Linked DNA regions of Homo sapiens. The protein of the gene in region 1 interacts with the protein of each later gene in a pairwise test. Each region holds a gene or a part of one and is shown on either strand. Other genes may lie near its edges. The genes, in order: NPTX2 and FZD6.

Region 1 (11,382 bases):
CCTCTGGGGCCCCACCAACTTCACTCCCAGCTCTGCAATCTGCTGGCAATGTGAATGCAGGCATCACTTTAGTTCTCTGACTTGAGTCCCTCGTCTGAACTAATCCCTACCTTGCAAGGTCATGTCAGGGATTACAGAATGCCAAGTGTGGAACTCACAGCCAAGCATCTGGTCCCTAAGGGGTGGAGGCTGACAGACCAAAGGCCAGAGTTCCCCCACCAAGGCCCCCTGCCTGTAGTGAGGTTAAGGTCTAGCTACTCTGGGTTCAGCTGGATGTGTCTAAGAAACTTGGCATCGTTTCCAATCATAGTACATGTGGAGGGCTGGGCGTTTACTCATCTCTCTACAATTGTCACAAACAGGACACTCAGAATTGCCCAGAAGACAAACTGGTCTGCAAATGATCACTTTCCTTAAAGCACATCCCAGAGCTGAGTTGGTGGAGCTCACAGAAGGATTCTAGAGTTCCCACGGTGGGATGAAGAGAGGCTGGGCTGCCTCTCTGGGGTGCATAAATGGCCAGCAGCGTCTTTGCCCTCGTAGAGGTGAGCTTCCCCTCTGTGCCAGATGAGCTTTGAGGGCTTGCTGGGAAACTAAAGGGTCAGGAGTCAGGCTGGCGGGGTCTGAGTCCTGACTGTTTCTTTCTGGCTGGTAATGGACAGGCTGGGGATGAAAGGGACAGTCACAAAGTGGCAGCTTCTGGGTGGCCAAAGCCATGATGATGGCTTACCTTAGGAGTAAGCCCAGTGAAATGACATTGGCCTTGAGTGAGAGAAAGAGAAGGAGGAGGTGCAGGTTGATGTGACTGTCACTGTTTGCCAGCTAGTGGCCCAGGACCCACTTTGGGCCCCCTCCCCAAAAGATACATGTCCCACTGAGAACGGAGTCTTTTTCTCATCTATGAAACGGGCATACCAGGAGTCTGAGCTCCCGCCTGGCATGACTGAAGCTCTGGCTCACTATTCTGCTATTTACCCACCTCCTCATGGCAACTTGGCCACTGTGCAGAGGGAGGTTTACAGCCACCAAGGTCTCTCATGGAGCCCTCCTCTCGTTCCACAGTTCCCCTTTCGAGAGGCAAACTACCTTTAGTGTGCCAACTCCATAGCCCTGGGTGTCCCGAGGATCCACTGTGGCTCAGGCTGGGTCCACGGAGCCACGCTCACCTGTGCCTAGACGTTCCCTCCTCCTGTCATGGGAGGAGGGCCACAGCAACGGCTGCTTTACCTTCAGGGATGGCTCCTGAGGCCACCCAGCAACAGAGGGGAGACAGAAAGGAAGATTTTTTGGAAACTCAAGAATCTAACAGATCTAACAGGTAAGCCATACTCACCTTTTTCTGAGAAGGGCCAGGAAGAAAGGATAGGTTTTTCTGTAGGAAGAGACTAGGAAAGGGATGAAAGAGACCTGTGGCTTGTGGATGCTGGCTGTAAAATGGAACAGTAACACCAGCCCCTTCTCCATCTGCCCCACCTCGGCCAAAGTCATTGGATGTTCTGCTATTGGGCATCCTCCTATCAATGCATGAAACGGAGTCATGGGGAAGTGGCTTCATCAGCTTAGTGCATCTGGGAAAATTCCAGTCTTATAAACACCCACTACGGGCAAACCTACAACTTCAAACCCAAGCCACCCAGTGGTTTGGGGGTTGATGACGCAATCTGAATTATCCCCTGATCCCTCCCACTCTGTCTCCTGTGGGAGAAACTTACTCACCACAGTGTGAGCAGAGAAGAGAAAGATACACAGAATCCGCTGCCAGGACTAGTTAACAAAGGACTGAAACGCCCGTGTGGTTGCTTATCGAAGCTGGTCCTGGACACTTTCACTTTTCCCTGGATAATGCCAGTGGGGCTGGCAGCTCATTCCTGAGATGACCTTGTTCAGTCGCCTTTATTATTTGCTCACACACTCGGGAACCAGGCCCATGTGGTGTCACAATCCCTGCTGTCCATCAACCAGAATCGCATGTCTGACCACAAGTGGTGAAAATCAGGCCACTGCCAGACAGAGAAACAGGCCAGGCACACACCTCGCTCCAGCTCGGTGACCCTCTGCAGCAGCGCGTTCAGGGTGCTCTCGGTCTTCTGCCGGTGAGCCGAGGTCTCATTGTGCAGCAGGGACTTCTCGTCCTCCAGCTCTGCCACCTTGCGCAGAAGCTGCCTCTCCAGCTCCCCCAGCCGCTGCTGGAGCACCTCGCGGAAGTCGCCGGGCAGCCCAGCATTGGACACGTTTGCTCTGAGCTGGTGCTTTCAGCCACCGGGGAGGAGGGAGGGGCACAGAAAGAGTTAAAAAGAAATTGTGAAATGTGGCTGTGATGGCCCGACCACACAGGGAGAAGCTTCCAAAACGCAAGCCCTGAATCTTGCCACTGGCAGGCAGGGGAGCATCTCACTGATGCTTTTTTGGTATGGAAAAGATTTCAAAGTCAGATAAGAATTACTTTGCTGCAATATTTGAAACTTGTGAATCTAATTTTCCCTTCTCAAAAAGCCGTTTTTCTCCTCTTACTAAAAAGTCAATATTCTAACCAACGCCTAGAATTCTATGTTGGGTAGAGACCAAAACTCAGCTCCAGGATTTTTTTTCTTTTTTAAGAGTAAATCGATGGTTACACAAAGCCAAGGAGCTTTCACCTAGAAATGAAAACAGCCCCCAAGTTCCGGTCTGGCACCAAGGTAAATAACTATGCATGCAGAGATGTTTCTGGAAAATGACAGATCTAAAACGTTGCTATTCTGAACTCCAGCAATCTTTGTTTTTAATGCTGTTTCTAAATCCTCACTTCCTATTTCTCTTTCTCCCCTACCATCATGTGGTTCTGGAGGCTGTGGCAGGCTGCCTACCCATGAGTTCATGGCAAGCTATTTACCTTTCTCCACAAAGTGTTCCAAATTGTGAAATGCACATAATGGGACCTGCCTCATGCCATTCATTGTTCCAAGGATTAAAAAATTAAATGATGTGCCTGACTCATATTTAGTGCTCCAGAAATGTTAGCTGTTAGCAATCACAATGAATCAGGGGATATACAGATGCTGGAAATACTGTATTCAGCCCTCACGCCAAAAGAAACCCTAGAGTCATTTTTGCAATAATTACCACCTGTAATTTAAACCTAGTTTTGCTGAGAAGTATTTTCACAAAGGCTATTAACAGCAGTGTCCACACTTCTTAAAAAGGGTGGAGCCTAAAGATGAAAAATAATTGAAGATTTTTCTCTCAAAGTTCCAAACTGCACGCATTTTCAGAGATAGAGATGAGACGGAGGCGGGAGCGGGGGGCGGGGGGGGGGGACGGAGGGGGAGGGGGGGAGGGGGGGAGAGAGAGAGAGAGAAGGGAATGAGGTCCCTTCCCCTGAAGCAATCCGGAAGAGCACCTTAAAATGGTCCAACTTGCAGACACGGGAGTCTTTGAAGTTAACCAGAGGTTGCCCCTCTAATGCGCGCTCTGGGGTCGCCGGTGACCCCCTGCGCTCGCCTCCCTGCGACCTCCGCCCCCAGACTTCCGCCCCCTCTAGCTCAGCCTGACCTGATTTAAAGAAAGAAACACCACATGCCCGGGGCAGCTGACCTCCCGCGGCAGCCTCGCAGCAACCCGCACGGCCTGCGGGAGCGCATCCCGGCTCGCGGAGATTTGGAGATTTGCAAGAGGATAGAGGCTACCGCGTCCCCGGGTATTTGGCGCCCGCGGCTTGGCCGTCTGGGTTCGCTAGCCCGGACCTCGGGAAGTGCTCGGCGGATCCCGCTGGCAGTCCCGACGCGCGGGGGTGGAATTTAAACGTTTCCTTCCAGCAAGAGCAGCGGTGTGGGAAGGGATACCACGCAGGGGAGTTCCCGAGCAGGATCTAGATCCCCGCCTTTCACCCTCAAGTCCAGCTCACCCCCACGGACGATCACACCCTCCCCAGGGCCAGGCCCCCTTTCCCCATCCTCCCGAGTCTTCCGCCCCCGACTCGGGAGCGTCCCCATTCCAGGTCCCCCGCGCTCCCCGCGGGCCGCTACCTCGAGGCTCTCCAGGCGGTCCTTGAGGGTCTGCAGCGAGCGGCTGAGCTGCTCCACGACGTGGCCGGGGTCCCGCGGCAGGTCGCCCATAGTGTCCTTGCCCGTGGCCCCCGCGCCGCGCGCCTTGCCGCCCGCCAGCCCCTCGCAGCGCGCTAGCTTGCCCGTGAGCTCGCGGATGGCCTCGCGCTGCGCGCCCAGCGTCTCCTTCTGCTGCACGACGGTCTCGCGCAGCTGCAGCACCGCGGCCCTCAGCTCCTCCTCGGGACTCTGCGCGCCGCCCTGCATGGGCATCGCGGGCAGCGGGCAGCCGGCGTGCACCGCCTCTGGGGGCAGTGCCGTGCACACGAAGCGGCTACCGGGCGCCGGGCTGTCCTGGGCCCCAGCGGCCACGGCGAGCGCCACGCTGGCGGCCAGCAGCGCCAGCATCCCGCCGCCGCTGCCGCGCTCAGCTCGGCATGGGCGAGCGGGCGCCGTCGGGGCGCTCCGCGGGAGGCGCCTTCGCTGCTGGCAGTAGCCGCGCTGTCGTCTCGAGGGTCGCGTGCACCGCGGGGCAGAAGTCTCCTGCCGTCTCACAGCCGCACCCACCGCGCTGCTCGGCACTCTGGCCTGCCGGGTCCGCGCGCCCTTTCTTAAGCTGAGGGGCGGAGGGGGCCGGCGTGTGGGGCGCGCGCCACGAGCTCTGATTGGCTCGGCCGGGTGCGCGTCACGCAGTGGGCGGAGCGGGGCGGGGCGGGGGCGCTTTCCGTTGCGCGCCTGGCGGCCGGGCGGGAGCGTGGGCCGGAGCCTGAGGCGAGAGCGCGAGGTCCCGGGCTCTGCCTCAGGAAAGGAGGCCTGAGGTGGAAAACGACACTGGGGCTCTCGAGAGCCTCGGCTGGCCGTGCCCAGGCGCCCCTCGAACCCACCCGAGGACGCGGGCGTCACAGGCTGAGGAGAAAGTGGGAACCCCTCGGTGTCCCGGTGCCCCTTTCTCAGGGTGGCTTCTGGCGCGGCACGGGGCCTCGCTGCGCGTTTGCCGCCGCCCTCAGGGAGGCGTTTTCTCCAGCAGGAGCAGCCCCCCAGGCGGGACTCGAACCCCGACTGCCATCGCGAGCCACCCCCGCGGCAGGCGTGGGCCTTCTCGTCAAGGCCCGGCCACCTCACTCTCGAGGCGGGAAGGAGCCGCACGACGGCCGCCTCCGGATGCAACGGTCCCCGGGACGCGCTCCATGGCCCCGCCTCCACCCCCCGCGCCAACTCGGAAAACGCTCGGGAAGAATCCCGGGGGCCTCGGGGACCGGGACCAGGACCAGGCGCCGGACGCTGATGGGAAGGAGGGGACACCCGGAGTTAGGGACAAAGTCACGAGGCCACTCGCAGAGCCCTCGCGCGCGTGTTCATCGACTGCCCCCTGGGCGGTGACCTTATTCAGCAAGACCTGAGCTCAGGGGCGGGGTGACATCTAACTGGAGTCATCATGATGGAGCCACGTGGTCCAACAGTGCCCGGTCCTTGTAACCAGGAGGGCCCGCAGTGTCACCACTTCCTCGAAGTGAGGCCACTGCCCTCAGCTTCTTGGAGACAGCAGATATGAGCAGAAACCCCCAAAAGTCAGGAGCAAATTTGTTTCAGAATCTCTCCAAATCTGTGGCTTAAAACAAGTTCAGAGGGATTTTGGTGCACAGCTACAGACTGAGCTGGTTTACTGCACATTTATAAATGGAAATCTTTATTTCTTTTCCTCTCTATGTTTTTAAGAAATCCTGTTGCAAGGTCATTAATCACGTTATCCATTATACCACAAACAAATGGATTTGTCACTTGTGCGCAGAAGCCGAGGTTGATTCTGAAAGCAAATTGTACCAAAATAAATGAAATTATTATGATAATATAAACTAGACTGCAGTGATTAATCTCTAGAAACCAAATTCTGACCTGCTTTGCACTTCAAACAATAGCTTCTATTATGTAAATAGTTGTGGGGTTTTCAAGGACATTATTGCTAAATTATAAGAAAAGTTCTATTCTTGAAAATCTCTTCGTGGATAAAAATGAGAGACAGGAACCTGGTCTGCAAGGTATCCAAAGCAGAGGACAATGGAAGTAATGATGGTTCAGGTAAGAATATTCATTAGCAGAAAAAGGTATGGATGGGAGATTTGGGGTGAGTAATGGGCTCATGTTTCTGTTAGCCTGCATCCCCAGGAGGTGTCAGTTTCACCTTGTTAAGTATGACCTTGACTGGACTCATTCTTCCTACATCCTTTTTCAGCTGGATGAAAACTCGAAAAAGTTCAAATAAACCTACATATGCACAAATTACAATAATGAAGGCAACAGGGTTGCAAAGCACTTTATGCCTTGTTACATTTCAGATGATTCATAAGGCACCAAATCCAGACGTTTTCAAAATTATTCAGATAACGATGTGACTTTTCCATTTTCACTCATAGCTTTGATGTTCCTCTTTACTTGTAGACCTAGGTGGCCCTTAATTGGATGTGACAATAGAGTATTATCGTTCCTGTATTGTTCCATATATCCTTTCTTGACACACAGACTGATACATTCATATTTGCAACTACTTGAAGTAGAAGCTTGTTCCTTTAATAATTAAACAAAATCAAGTATCTTTCCAGAATTCTAATTTCCTCCTGAACAAAGAAAGCAGTGTACAAGAGTAAAAATAGCATATATCCCAATATAATTACTCCTAAACGTCTTAAAAGAGATTCCAGTATGAGAAGTGATCAGTGAAATTGCCAAAGCTCAAATGGAAAGACCCAGACATTTGAAATGTTATTTTCTTTGGAGGCAGTATAATTAGAGGCTTAGTTAACAGAGTACATGCTATTTACAGTTTTATTTTATCTTCCTGGTGCAATGAAAAGCCTGCTGGCTTAGGAATGAGGGATCTAGTGCTAATTCTAACTCTGTCACTAGCTAAGTGGTTTGGGGCAAGTCATTTCTCCTCTGGACTTCAGTTTTCTTGCATATAAGATAAGGGAGGGGCGGGGGTTGGGCACGGTGGTTCACACCTGTAATCCCAGCACTTTGGGAGCCCGAGGCAGGCAGATCACAAGGTCAAGAGATCGAGACCATCCTGGCCAACATGGTGAAACCCCGTCTCTACTAAAAATACAAAATTTAGCTGGGTGTGGTGGCGCCCGCCTGTAGTCCCAGCTACTTGGGAGGCTGAGGCAGGAGAATCGCTTGAACCCAGGAGGCAGAGGTTGCAGTGAGCCAAGATCATGCCACTGCACTCCAGCCTGGTGACAGAGCGTGACTCCATCTCAAAATAATAATAATAATTTTAAAAAGATAAGGGGATTAGACGCAACTGTCTAAAGGTGCTTTGGCTGTACTCAAGAGCATGATAGTTTGAAAAAGAAGGAATCACTGTTGGTGTGAGGAACGTTTCAGAAACTTGTTTTTTCTGTGTGTGTTATTAACCACCTGTAGCCAAAGGTGAATGTGGAAAGGCAGGGTCGTTTTGTAGTACAGCAGGTAAACCTTCATACACGGAGACGCCGTAGTTGTGGTTAAAACCTGCTTTCGACAACACGAAAGCTCATACTGGGTTTACTCACAGCACAACAACTTTGTCTACCTGAAAGATCCTGCATGTATGACTCATGCTACCCATGAGGATGGTTATGTGAGTGGCAGAGACCAGGGCCCACAGATTTTCCTCCACTTGAAAAGTCGTGCAGATCTGCAGCAGTGAATCAGCTCCACCTAATCTCTTAGTGTAACTGATGCTGCAGCATAGTAACCACCCACTCATTCACTATGTCGGCTGGTCCCAGGTCAGCTGTGAGCCCAGTATGGACTTAAACCGTGTGCTGGGAATCCTGATGAGCTCATTCCGCCTCCATTTTATTGCCCCATCTGTTTGGTTCTCTTGTTCTTCTCACATGCATTTTTATCTTGGTCTTCTGGGAAATGTGCTAATTTCCACCATGGTGTGAGAGGATCCCATCTCATACTTTCTTACATTTCCTTCTCTCTTTCTCAGTGCCACTTGGGAAGTCAAGAATGAGAGTGTGAGCTCTAACAGAATCCAAGGACAGCTTCCTGCAAACATGATTCGGGAACTGTCCTCGGTGCTGAATTTCAATTGGAAGGGGGAAATAGACGTGTGTGTGTGTGTGTGTGTGTGTGTGTGTGTAAAGTTCAGTGCAGATAAAATAGAATTTGGAAGCTCCAGAGGATCCCTACTAACACACATTTATGCTTAAAATGCTAAGACGCTTTCAAGAGTGGATTTTTTTCCCCACTAGATTGAACTGCATGGTAGTGTGGAAAGAGCTTGAGCTTTGGAGTCAGACAGCTTTAGTTTCAGTCCCAGTTTTATGACTTGCCACTTTACCTTGAGAGAATGATTTAACCTCTCCCAGCCTCAGTTTTCTCATCTCTAAAATCAAAGCTAAATTTACTACAAAATATTGTTAGGCTTGAGTGAGATAATGTAAGTGAACATGTTTGGCATATAGCCAGTGCACAATAGATGATAATTGTCCTTTTCTTCCCCTTTTCTCCACTGAATTTAGACCTGTATTATGTAAGTCCCTTTAAAAACAAAGTTGAAAAAAATTCTTCCCTTTCTGCAATATTCTTTAGAGTTAAATAAGGCAAGAATACTTAAGAAAGAACAGGCCAGCCTCCCAAGAGGAAAGACAAGGGATGAAAACTTCAGGAAAATATACTGGTGTCTCAGCAAGATAAAGATATACTACTTTGTGGGTTTTTTTTTTTTTAAAAAAAAGATAAAGCATGGTATTATTGAGCTTTAATCAGAGGATTCAGTCAAAGTGAACTGTTTCACACCTACACTTGGGATATATCACCAGACTATGTGCCTGGACCCAACTAAAAAATTTGTAATATTTAACATCTCAGTGATTCTGAATTTGTGTTGCTACGGGACCCAAATAGATATAAGCCCCTCAGATAAAGCAAAATGTTCTTGCTTCAGTGCATCTGTGTTCTTCTTGAATAACATATTTCTGGCTAAATTTTGGGAGCATGTGAGATGAGACACTGAGTTTCAGGAAGTGGTGTCCCTGTACAAGTATATTATCACATTTAGCTAGAGAGCCGTGATTTAGGGGAATTGGTTGTTCATATTACTCAACTGATTTCAACAAACCAAAAAAGGCTTTTGGTGGCATCCTCTGATTTCAAGCAATAGAACGAGTCACCGGATATACCAGGGATAATGTCTTACCTCAGTTTTTAAAAGTAAGGGATAATAGACTGGGAGTGGGAGGAGGCTGAAGGAAGGAACATCATCAACTTAGTTTGCTTTGAGAAAATCTTCTATGAATGTAGTCTCAATTTCTCTATATTAGGAAACACCAAGAAAGTGCCCCACTTTCACATAACTTACAAGTGGTGAAATTGGCCTATTTCTGATAAAGACATGTGGCTCAATATCTCTGTATGATTCAGGCACACAGGTAGCTTGTATGAATCTTTGAAAGTGAGAGTTTGAAGATATTTTATAGAATTTTGAAGACTAGGAAACAGTTTGAGAAAGGTTAAAATGTCATATGGCAGCTAGATAGGAAGACTAGGTTCTGGTGTTCTACAGCACTGTAGGGTGAGTATAGCTAACAATAGTTTATTATATATTCTCAAATAGCTAGAAGAGAGGATTTTGAATGTACCCAACACAAAGAAATGATAAATGTTTGAGGTGATTGATATGCTAATTACCCTGATTTGATCATTATACATTGTATGCATGCATTGAAATATCACTCTGTGTCCTATAGATATGTACAATTATTACATGTCAATTAAAATTATGTTAAAGTAAAGACTTCCCCTCCCCACAAAATAAGTTCAAAACCATGCTAAAAAGATCATAGGGCTACTTAACAGCAGGGCCATGCTGGAACTCAGGCCCTCTGGTTTCCAGTAAGGGCTCTTTTCTCTGTATCACTCCCTAACATACTCATTAACCTATTAGAATGCTTGGTTTCTTCTTCAATAACTGCTTTCTTAAAAATCAATAATTTGCCATTAATTTCAATGTCCCCTTTTCTGTCATTCTCCTGGAACTCATCAGCATTGAACACTGTTGGCTAAGTCTTTTTTATTAGAATTTTCCAACATTGGTTTCTATGATATTGTATTCTTCTGGTTTTCTTCTTTGATTTCTGAACATTTTTTCCTTTCTTTCTTCTTTTCTGGACCTTCTTTCATTACCTGCCTCCTCAACACACATATTCAAAGTTGAACTGTCCATAGCTCTCTCCTTTCTCTCACTGTACTCTCTACCTTAACAGTTTGAAGTTTTTAAGTTATATTAATGATTCTGTCTTAGTTCATTTTCTGCTTCTATGACAGAATACCACAGGCTCAGTAACTTGTAAATAAAAGAAGTTTATTTGGCTCATAGTTCTGGAGGCTGGCAAGTCCAAGAGCATGGTGCTGGTATCTGGTCCATAGTGGAAAGGTGGAGGGCAGAAGCAAGTGCATATATCTGAGAACTACCAAGGGCTGGGCTTGCTTTTATAACCACCCACTCTAGTGATAATTGACCCACTCCTAAGATGATTGCAATAGTCCATTCATGAGGGCTCCCTCCTCATGACCCAGTTAATCCATACTTGGTCCCACCTCCCAAAACTGTTGCTTTGGGGGTTAAGTTTTTAACACATTAACTTTTTAAATTTTAACTTTAAGTTCTGATATACATGTGCCAGATGTGCAGGTTTGTTACATAGGTAAACGTAATACAGGAATTTTGAGGGACACAAACCGTAGCAGAAACTATCTATACTGAGTTCCAGATTATAATAAACCAACCGCATGTTGGACATCTCAAAGATAAACTACCCATACTTCTAACTCAATATGTCAGGTAAATTTATTGTTCTCTTTATTTTCCCTCTATTCTTCCTCCTGTTTCCTATTTCTTATGTCATTAATGCTTTCCAAGTCATTCAAATTCAAAACTTTGGAGACATCTGTATCTCCTCCACCCCCAATTTTATTCAAATTCTAGTGCATTTCTAAGTCCTAATTCTGCTTGTACAATATGCCAACTCTATTCTCACTGCTACAATCTCATTACTTCTGTTCTAAACTATACAGTTGCCTCTAACTGAACGATTCAGCTCTACAATGTCCATTTCAGCTTGTACATTCTATTGCCAGGTCAGTTTTCCTGAAGTACAGCACTAAAGCATTGATCTGCACTGCTCAGAAACCTTCATTATTTCTCTATGCAAATGTGTAAACTCTTTAGTCTCCATCATTTTTCCCCACACCCACCTATTCATTCCAATTTTTACTATATCCCTTGATCTACCCTCACTCCAAAGTAAACTTATGCTTTTCACAAATGACCCATATTTTTCATCCTCTGGCATTGGGACTCAGGTTGTTT
Region 2 (11,265 bases), on another chromosome or scaffold:
TAATATCCAGAATCTACAATGAACTCAAACAAATTTACAAGAAAAAAACAAACAACCCCATCAAAAAGTGGGCAAAGGATATGAACACACACTTCTCAAAAGAAGACATTTATGCAGCCAAAACACACATGAAAAAATGCTCACCATCACTGGCCATCAGAGAAATGCAAATCAAAACCACAATGAGATACCATCTCACACCAGTTAGAATGGCAACCATAAAAAGTCAGGAAACAACAGGTGCTGGAGAGGATGTGGAGAAATAGGAACACTTTTACACTGTTGGTGGGACTGTAAAGTAGTTCAACCCTTGTGGAAGTCAGTGTGGTGATTCCTCAGGGATCTAGAACTAGAAATACCATTTGACCCAGCCATCCCATTACTGGGTATATACCCAAAGGATTATAAATCATGCTGCTATAAAGACACATGCACACGTATGTTTATTGCGGCACTATTCACAATAGCAAAGACTTGGAACCAACCCAAATGTCCAACAATGATAGACTGGATTAAGAAAATGTGGCACATATACACCATGGAATACTATGCAGCCATAAAAAATGATGAGTTCATGTCCTTTGTAGGGACATGGATGAAATTGGAAATCATCATTCTCAGTAAACTATCACAAGAACAAAAAACCAAACACTGCATATTCTCACTCATAGGTGGGAATTGAACAATGAGAACACATGGACACAGGAAGGGGAACATCACACTCTGGGGACTGTTGTGGGGTGGGGGGAGGGGGGAGGGATAGCTTTAGGAGATATACCTAATGCTAAATGACGAGTTAATGGGTGCAGCACACCAGCATGACACATGTATACATATGTAACTAACCTGCACATTGTGCACATGTACCCTAAAACTTAAAGTATCAAAAAAAAAAAAATCAGAGTTATTAGCAGCCCATGAACCACAATTGGTATAAAGTTACTTCTGCACATCAAAGAAAATTAATTTAGCTATTGTCTAAATTACTAAATTGGGGCAAAAAGCCCTTTTCTAGATGCTACAAGCTTTATAAAGGGAAAATACTATTTCTAATATTCGACTTAACATGGCTGCTTTGGTTAAAAAAAGGATAACATATTAAATATTTAAAATGACCAGATGGTAGGTTTGAATCCACTGAAAACAAACCCAGCAGGGCAAACTCACAGGCACAAAATGTAACTCAAAGCATTAATAGAGCTGAGGCTGTTTTTCTTTAGCATTATGAATCTCTTATTTGCAATGACTATACCAGAGCTCCAAAGAGGCAGTCTTATACATCAAACTGTCATTAAAATATGTGGCTCTTTCCTGCAGTGTCATGTTACTACTGCACTGAAAATTTTATTTTTCCAGTAACACTGGAGGTAGTAATTAGAAGGTCTATTATTTCTGGCCAACCATAATGGATACAACCATAATGGACACAACCCAAAGGTTAATTGCTGTGCTACAAACACTGCAGCAATTAGCTTTCAGAGTAGGGAGTGACAGGGAATGTATTTCAAGTGAAAGTTAGTTTTTAAATAGAAACTATCCTCTACGTCATGCGCATAAACTTCCCTAAATTAAGTCAGTGCATGATCAAATTCACAATGTTACATGGAGGGAGTGAAGCCATGATAGAGCTTTCAAGGGTTAGGGAAAGAAGTATTAGGGAGAGAACTTCATGAGGGAAGGGGTTCATACCACTGGAAGTTCTAACTGCTTCCTCCCAAGTTCCTCTTTGCTTCTGTACTCTTCTATGCCTCTGCTCAGCCCAGCCTCCTCCAGCTGGGGTCCCTCTACTGCTGTTTGTTCCTCAAACTGCTAATGTCTCAGCATCAGGTCAGTGGCCACAAGCCGGCCTATCCCCCAGTATGTGTACAGGGCCCAGGCAGGAGTACAAAGGAGGACACCATGCTATATGTCTACATAGCTAAAATTCATATATCAAACTAACAAACTGCTACTTGAAATATGTTCTATCCTCCTACCTTGAAAAAATGTACCTTTATAAAGACAGAAATGTTTTTAATGTGTAAAGCTATGTTTTAATGAGTAGGCAAAATATCAAAAGTAGATAAATTCAATTATTATGGCACGTGTTTGCATAGTCCGGTGATAGGCTGGAGATGTTTGGGTAAGTAATTAAATAAAAACTTACACAGTTTACAAGTTACATATTTACCCCTGTGAAATTTACTTTCTTCCCTTCATTTTAGCAAAATCCCTTAATTATATTGTCATAATAAAAATTTTCATATAGTCAGTCTTCTATGAATACTAATGCCAAATTACATAACTTTTCTGAATTATTGCAGCTCTTGGGATTTTTCAACTCGATTTTAACTTGGAGAAACTTTGCTCTGCTAAGGCAGTAGCAACTGGAATTATCAATAAAATTCTTAAAGTCATACCTATTTTTAAAAATGAGAAATTAAGGTTTGTAGTGTGGCATGTAAGGAGCTTAGCTGTTACTCTGTCCTGACAAAAAGTAGAAAGTTGAACAAACTGAAAATCAACAACTCTTCCTAGATCTAGCAGAGAAGTAAGGACACAGAGCAAGCCACTGCCCCCAAAGTTGGAGAGACAAACAGGCAGATACACAGAATCACAATTTACTAGAGCAGAAACCCGCCGGCAGAAACCTCCAGGGGCATGAGTACAGGGTAGGAAGACCAGAACTGTAACTGATGAATTGCTAGAGGCTCAGGGTGGTCAAGACTAAGAATTTAAAACTCCAGGGGGTCAGCTGGGCACGGTGGCTCACGCCTGTAATCCCAGCACTTTGGGAGGCCTAGGCAGGGAGATCACGAGGTCAGGAGACAGAGACCATCCTGGCCAATACGGTGAAACCCCGTCTCTACTAAAAATACAAAAATTAGCTGGGCATGGTGGTGTGCACCTATAATCCCAGCTACTCGGGAGGGTGAGGTGGGAGAACCATTTGAACCCAGGAGGCGGAGGTTGCAGTGAGCCAAGATCACGCCACTGCACTCCAGCCTGGCAACAGAGTGAGACACACACACACACAAACACACACACACACACACACACACACACACACACAAAGGGGGAGGGGGCCTAGTCTTTGGAGGGCACACTCACACTTTTGTAAGTTTTACCTCCAGGAGTTCTTCCAGGTTCTCTCAGTGAAAATCAAAGAAAAATCACCTCCTACATCCAACAGGGAGAGGTGAAAAGAACCATTTTGAAATATGTCAAAATATTCTGTTCTTTTTAACAAGGCCTGCCCTCAAGAGAAACTACCAGAGCCTAACCTATTACAGTTTTAGCAGAGCCTAACCAAGCTGATAGATGGGAAATATCCAACCCCAGCCCCCTCTAGACATCCTGTCCCACCCAAGAAGGGGGATAAAAACTAAGAAGCACTTGTGAAGTTTCCAGCCTAGGGACACAAGCTCACTAAGACTGAAATCTAATCATAGGTCTATAGAATGTTTCCCCTCCTCCCACATCTTAACACCGCATCACTGAAGCCCATTTACTCCAGTGCCTTTCACCCAGTGCATCATGTCCAGCTTTCAACTAAAAATTACAAGGCACACTACAGAGCAAAAAACACAGTTTGAAGAGGCAAAGCAATCATCAGAACTAGACTCACATACGGCAGAGATGTTGGAATTATCAGACCAGGAACTTCAAATAACTGTGATTAATATACTAAGGGTTGTAAAGGTAAACGTAGACAACTTGAAAGAACAGACGGTTAATGTAAGCAGAAATGAAAATTTTAAGGAAGAATAAGAATTGCTAGAGATATAAAATTCTATAACAGAAATGAAGCATGCCTTTGATGGATTCATTAATAGACTGGACATGGTTGAGAAAAGAATCTCTGAGTTTGAGGATATGTCAATGGAAACTTCCAAAATTGAAAAATAAAGAGAAAAAGGACTTAAAAAAAAGAAACAATATCCAAGAACTGTGAAACAACTACAAAAGTATAACATATGTGTAACAGGAATACCAGGAGAAGAATTAGAGAAAGGAACAGAAGAAATATTTGAAGCAATAGTGACTGAAAATTTCCCCAAATTAATGTCAGTCACCAACAATGTTAGACCAACTCTCTAAAATCTCTTCCAGAAGATAGAAGCAGGGGGAATACTTCCTAGCAGCATTGCCCTAATACCAAAACCAGACAAAAACATTACTAGCAAAGAAAACTATAAACCAATATATCTCTTGAACAAAGATGTAAAAATCCTCAACAAAATATTAGCTAGTAGAATCCAGCAATGCATAAAAAGAATTGTACAGCATAACCAAGATTTATCCCAGGTATGCAAGGCTGGTCCAATATTTGAAAATTCATTCATGTAATCTACCATACCAATAGACTAAAGAAGAAAAATCACATGACCACATCAATAGATGCAGAAAATGCATTTGACAAAATCCAGCACATTTTCATCATAAAAACTTTCAGCAAACTAGGGACAGAGGGGGAACTTTCTCACTTGCTAAAGAACATCTACAAAAACCCTAAGGTAACAATATACTTAATGATGAGGAGCTTACCTATAGAGGAACAAAAATAAAGAATGACATCCAACTTCTCAGAAACCACGTAGACAAGAAGAGAGGTGGAGTAAAAGTGTTCAGAGAAAAAAACTACCAACCTATAATTCTGTACCTTGCAAAATTAGCCTTTAAAAGTAAAAGTCTGTTTCTTCTACTTTTGGTCACCACTGTCCCCTAGCATCAGCCCAGAGGAACAATGCAAAGAGAAAGAGAAGGAAAATGAGGAAAACCGTCAGATAGTTCCATATTTACAGATGAAGAAACTAAAGAGGATCTGAATAATTTGCTCAAGTTCACACAGCAAGTAAATGCTGGAGCTAGGTTTTGAACCCAGGGATTTTGAACTCCAAAGTTTGTGTTCTTAATCTCGTACCATTGGGATGAAATTGTACAGTGAAAGACAAGCGATGATATAGATGATTGCCTAAGTATTCCAAATCCATCCTGACAAAAAAAAAATCATTCTAGTTCATCACTGCTCACTATATAATTAAATACAATGAAAAATAAAACAGGCTTTATTTACTTCTGTATAAATCAACTTACTACAATTTTTCCTTCCAAATAATGGAACAAGTATTCACTTGAATTTCAAAACTATCGTTTTCAAATGATACTTTAAAAGTATCGTTTTCAAACGATATTTTAAAAAGTATCGTTTTTAAATGATACTTTTAGTGATACTTCACTGCCTGGTAGTCACTAGAGCCTGATCACAAAAAGATCTCATTAAGTTCGTAGAAACTGGAGAGAAATAGTCTTCCAATGTAGAAAATTAGAAATTTAGGGGAAAATATTCTTCCTACATAGAAATTTATTCTGCAATACATCAACTATCCAGCTCTTAATGATGTTAATATTTCTTCATCACTACCTGTCTCCCAACATCAGTAAGCTTTTGATAAAACTGGGGAGGAATTCCCCACTCCAAATTCGTCTTTCCCCACAGATTCCAAAACTCTTACTCTGGTTGTTCAGGGTTGTCCTTCTAGGTATGGAAATATGACATTCCTTTTCTGCAACAGGATGATTTATCTGACAAGAATAGCCTCCATCTACAAGTTACTTTGCATTTTTCAAAGTACTTCTACAAGTTCATTTGCTTCTCATACTATTCTGCCTGTTTCATAGGAGGGCCTTACAGGTTAGGTGTAAACACTTGTAACGAACTTGGCACTATTTGACTTACAGCCAGTGCTCAATTAACGTTAACCATCATTACAACTATTGTCATTCCTATATTGTGAGGAAACTATGCCCCTTAAAGATTAGGGTAATTTATCTAATATCTATGACAGAGTTGGTACCCCAAACTAGGTTGATTTCTACAGCAGTTCAACTTCCTATTAGGGTTTGTATCAATAAAACTGTGGGACCCGCCAGGGCTGGAATCCCACTGCTACCTGAGCATCCAGTTGGTGACCAGGCTCCCCGAATTAATAAAAGTATTTGTTGTTGTTTTTATAGCAGTTGTCCAGGAAGTATCTCCTTTCGAACTCAAGTCACTTGGGCAATTGGCTTTACAAAGCAAATTGGCTCCGTTTAAGGATTCTTGACTCCTGAAATCCGCAAGGAAGTGGGTTCTTTTAGAGCCAGCGCCAAGAGCTTCAAAAAATCCTTCTAAGGTGAACCCCTCCGGACCCGGATAGCGAGATGGGGCTCAGCCTTGCGCCTCGGGGGTCGTAACAGACGGCAAGGTGGAGGTGGCTTCCCGGCCCCGCAGCCGGACCTCGGCACCCCGAGCCCGTTCACCGGGGCCGGGTCCTGGCGGGCCGCGGAGTGAGGCCGGGCGGCGCAGCGCAGGCGGTGCCCGGGCGCAGGGCCAGTCCCGCCGCCGCCGCCGCCGCCGCCGCCGCCGCCGCCGCGAGCCCGGACCTGCCCGCCCGACCTGGCGGCGCAGTCTCGCGGGATCGCTCAGCTCTCGCTCCCCGTGCGGCTCTCGAGGCAGCTCCAGTCCCGGACGCAACCCCGGAGCCGTCTCAGGTCCCTGGGGGGAACGGTGGGTTAGACGGGGACGGGAAGGGACAGCGGCCTTCGACCGCCCCCCGAGGTGAGGCTTCCACGGCTGGGACTGGGCAGGGGCCGGGCGGGTGCCGGGGGAAGCGGGGAGGGCCTCGAGGGGCGAGGGGCCGCGGCTGGGATGAGGCGCGCCGGGAGCCGCAGGTGCTGGGGAGGCAACGGCGGGACGGCCCGCACCTGAGTTTCCTCGGAAGCGGGAACCGGCTCTGAAAGGCGATGCCGGGGCCCCGCGGCGCCGCGCAGGCCAGGAACGCTGCTGTCTGGCTCTAGGCCTGGGGCAGGTTCCCGGGTGTGGGGCGCTGGCGGACCGGGCATCAGTGTGTGTTGGGGCGCGGGTAATTCGTAATCCGGGGCCTACAGCCTTCCTCCCGCAAGGGGACTGCCTTCGCCCTTCCCCCGGGACAGATTTGCGCACTTTCCTTTCGACGGCAGCACTACACCCTCCTAGCCAGTGAAAACTGCAATGTTGCTCCTCCACTGGAGGAATCCTAAAAGTCTCCCTCTAGTTGGCCTTACGAAAATCGAGAAAACTACATACCCAGAAGACTGCCACAAAAACTGACTCTTCAGAGTCTTTTACAAGTTTAAGAACTCTTTGGGTCTTAAGGAATTTCCCAGGGCCTTAGTTTTCTTGTACTTAATAAGCTTTCCAACAGGGGCCCTTAGATTGTATGCTTATATTAATCCTTTATAATTTACTCCGAATCACCAGCTTTCCTTTTTTCCTCCATCTTACTCTTGCCATTCCCTCTTTTTAACCCTGTCTTCCATACAGCACCAACCTCCTAGCATCGGTTTCCTAGAGGTGCAGCTTCCTTAGCAAATGATATATTCCATGCTAAGGCAGGTGGAAGAGTATCTCGTTAGGACAGAATTTTCCGTTGTTTTTCCAGTGTTTGTTACCTGGGGTGAAAATCTTAACTCTGCACTTTGACTCCACATTTGAGTTTATGACAAATGTTGCTGATACACCCTCCTTTTGTTTTTACAGTAATTGACCCAGGACTCATTTTCAGGAAAGCCTGAAAATGAGTAAAATAGTGAAATGAGGAATTTGAACATTTTATCTTTGGATGGGGATCTTCTGAGGATGCAAAGAGTGATTCATCCAAGCCATGTGGTAAAATCAGGAATTTGAAGAAAATGGAAATGTTTACATTTTTGTTGACGTGTATTTTTCTACCCCTCCTAAGAGGGCACAGTCTCTTCACCTGTGAACCAATTACTGTTCCCAGATGTATGAAAATGGCCTACAACATGACGTTTTTCCCTAATCTGATGGGTCATTATGACCAGAGTATTGCCGCGGTGGAAATGGAGGTGAGTAGTGCTTCATACGTTTATTGAATAGTAGTTTATGCTCTGTTCTAGAATAAACTAGTAAAAATAAGTCTATTTTTAAACAGAGCCGATTTCTTCAAGTTGTGTACAAGTTGTGTTTTGAAAAGTCCTTTTGAAAATTAAATCCCTCTACTGACTTATGTTTTGTGTACCTTTGCGGCCCTGTTTAGTAGATTCGTTTGAATAGGGTTCATTTTATATAATGAAGTATGGTTACACATGATTTCTAAATACCTTGTACCTAGAAAATATTTTGCTTTCCTGAATCAAGTATGATAGTTCTTCTAGAAATGCGAATTCTGAATATTTTTCTACTTCACTGAACATGTAATATTTATTGCCTGGACTAAAACTGAAGAAATTTACAAGTTTTTATAAGTAGTTGTAATATTCACTTGGTACAGTTTTTCTGAAATAAATAAATTATCAGAATATTTTGTTGCTGTAGACTGTATTTTAAGGCTATCACAAAGTCACTAAAAAGTGACTTTGTTTTCTAAGCATAGCACTTATATGTTCTTTATAAGATACTTGTTAAAAGAAACCACTTGGGAGGAGTACAGTGACACTAAAGATTGCCTTAGGTGCCTTAGTTACCTGTCTCTGGTTTAGAGATATGCAAATTACTAGGGAGTGTGAGAAGAAAGCTACCTGTACAGACAGGAACCTGCCTTCCCATACAGATTTGTTAGGTTGTTAAGTCTCCTGAAGGAAACTAGACACATGCATTGTTTTTGTAGTTTTTCTCCAGAAAAACAGAATAGTAAAGGCTTTTTTCCCTCAGATTGTTGCTAAGAGAGGAAATCCCTACAAATTTAATATATATACTATTTTTAAAATTGATTAGATTTGATTTTGCAGCTTTGAAAGTTTTCTATTGTTGTTCAGTTGAATAGTTGTCTGACTGCCTCATTGTGGACTCATGTCTGGAATAGGAAAGCTTATAAATACTAAGTAGATGTTATTTAAAAGGATAGTACAGATTATATTATTGTTATCTTTCAGTGGTTTTTTTCAAACTGATGCTAGATGTCCTTTTGAACTGAACAAATGATGCACTGAGACTTTCATGAATCAGAACCATTTTGATGGTTCAATCTGATTCAATATGAAGTATATAGTGAGAACACTGTGAAGCAATAATTACATCATTCATTCACTTTTTTGCTGATGATAATATGTTTTGTAGTGTTCATGTTTTAATAGTGTTCCTAAATTTTTTAAATCTAATTTCCTTTGTATGTGGTAACTACATACATTTTAAGGTTTTTGTTTTTTCTTTTAGAGATGGGGTCTTACTATGTTGCCCAGGCTGGTCTCAAACTCCTAGGCTCAAGTGATCCGTCCTGCCTCAGCATCCCAAAGTGCTAGGATTACAGGCGCGAGCTACTGCACCTGGCTGACCATTTTAAGTTTGAATGCTAACAGTGACCTTATAAATTCATATCACCTAGACTCAAGAGAGATGCATCCCTGCTATTAAATGCCTGTAATTATAAGATGGTAGCAACTAGCTTTGTTCTGCACGTCTTTTTAAAACCAAATTTTTTTTACTTTCAAAAAAATTACTTTTTAATTTACCTAGCTTCTTTCCCAAGTAGTTTTGTGCCTGGATATTATCAAGAAGGCTTTTTGTTCTTACCTCTTTTATATGATTGCTAATACTACCAATCTCTTCATTATATAATTTTCCACTTATAACTAACCTTTCTCATAGCCTTTACTAATGAAGTTTTTTTTTTTGCTATAAATCATACTTCAGTAAATTTAAGGATACAAAAGAAGAGAGCCATCAAGCAGTCACAATACCAGCATTAACCTAAGTCTATAGAAGAAAGGAAAGAGAAATGAAAAGGCAAAAATAATGTCACCCTGGCTCAGACTTTTAATCCCTATATGTAATTTCTCAGTGTATACTATTGTGTTTTTCCTACTGCCCCTTTCCTATTTATCCATATACAGTAGTATTCTCTTTTAGTTCCTGTATTTGAATGTCCAAAATCCTATAAGTTGAGAGTTGTAAGTGACCCTAAAGATCATATAGAGCTTCTTAACCTTTTTTATGACATTAACCCCTTCTCAAGATAAGAGAAGTTTTAATATTTAAATAAATAAAATGTGTAGGATTACAAAGAAAACAAATTATATTGAAATATAGCTCAGGTAAAGAACCCCCGAACCCTTCATTATACAGATGAAGAAACTGAAACCCAGAAAAGCTGCGATTTGTCCCTTTGAGCACTCTAATCTGATAGTCTTCTCTGTCTACATGGACCATAATGTCATCTTTAACTGGTTTTTTTTTAGGCCCTTGTCCTGATTGGATAAACAAGATAATATTTCTTATGATTTAGAATGCAATGTGTAAATTTCAGACTTTGCTACTTATTTGCAAACTTCATTTAGATAAAAATTAAACTGGGTGATTGTTTTACCTCTGTTTAGCTCTGTCTCTCTTTTTCCTTCTTACAAGTGCCTTGAATACAAAGTCTTGTTAGACCAAAAATAAAATCTCTGTGGCGCACACCTGTAGTCCCATCTACTCTGGAGGCTGAGGTGGGAGGATCACTTAAGCCCAAGAGTTGGAGGCTGCAGTGAGCTATGATCGTTCCACTGCACTCCAGTCTGGGCAACAGAGTGAGACTTCAACTCAACAAAACAAAATGAAAACAACAAAAACAAAGCAAAAGTTAACTCCCTAATCTTCAGTCTCTCTAGTGGTGCCACAATGATTTTATTATAATTCAAATTTGTGCAGTCCACTTTAGGGTTAAAATCCTTCATCATTTTCCCTAAAGCTGGGGAAAAAAAGACCTGGTTCTAGAGCACTCCAGGCCCTTCATGTGGGACCCTGGCTGCTTGTCCAGTCTCTCATCTTGTACCTTCCCACATTGCACACTCTGCTTCAGCCAACTGACCTATTTGGAGAATTCAAATCCATATTACTGTCCATCACCTCTGTATCTTTACACACACTCTATCCTCTGGTGAGCCGTCTGTCTACCTACCTTTCTTCACCTGCTCAATTCCTTCAGTTCTCAGTTAAAGCAATAACTGTTTTTAGCGAACCCTTCTTTCACCTTTCTCCTGAGCAAATTTAATCACCCCACTCTACACCCTTACAGTACTTATAATGTACAGTTGTTCTTATGCTATTTTACAGTGAATCTACATGTCTCTAGATTGAGAGTTTGTTGAAGGTAGGGATGGTGTTTTTTTTTCATCTGTATCCCTAATACTAAGTACAATGCCTCTGAGCATGGTAGAGGCTACATAAAAGCTAAATAAAGAAAAAGGTAGGATTTTATGTCCCAATAAGGTAGCAAAGGGAATTTTCCCTCCAAATCTTTACATTCCACTTCTATCATCTACAGT

What was found.
Region 2: the proteins of NPTX2 (region 1) and FZD6 interact in binary tests that used the Homo sapiens proteins (3 or more experiments, as listed by UniProt).

Annotation. Positions count from the first base shown.
Region 1 is NC_000007.14:98,610,510-98,621,891, reverse strand, and holds the start of NPTX2 (neuronal pentraxin-2 precursor), read right to left. Parts: upstream 4,608-11,382; 5' UTR 4,431-4,607; coding exon 4,005-4,430; intron 2,250-4,004; coding exon 2,033-2,249; intron 1-2,032. UniProt on the Homo sapiens protein: Likely to play role in the modification of cellular properties that underlie long-term plasticity. Binds to agar matrix in a calcium-dependent manner.
Region 2 is NC_000008.11:103,292,416-103,303,680, forward strand, and holds the start of FZD6 (frizzled-6 isoform a precursor), read left to right. Parts: upstream 1-6,482; 5' UTR 6,483-6,580; intron 6,581-7,540; 5' UTR 7,541-7,692; coding exon 7,693-7,869; intron 7,870-11,265. UniProt on the Homo sapiens protein: Receptor for Wnt proteins.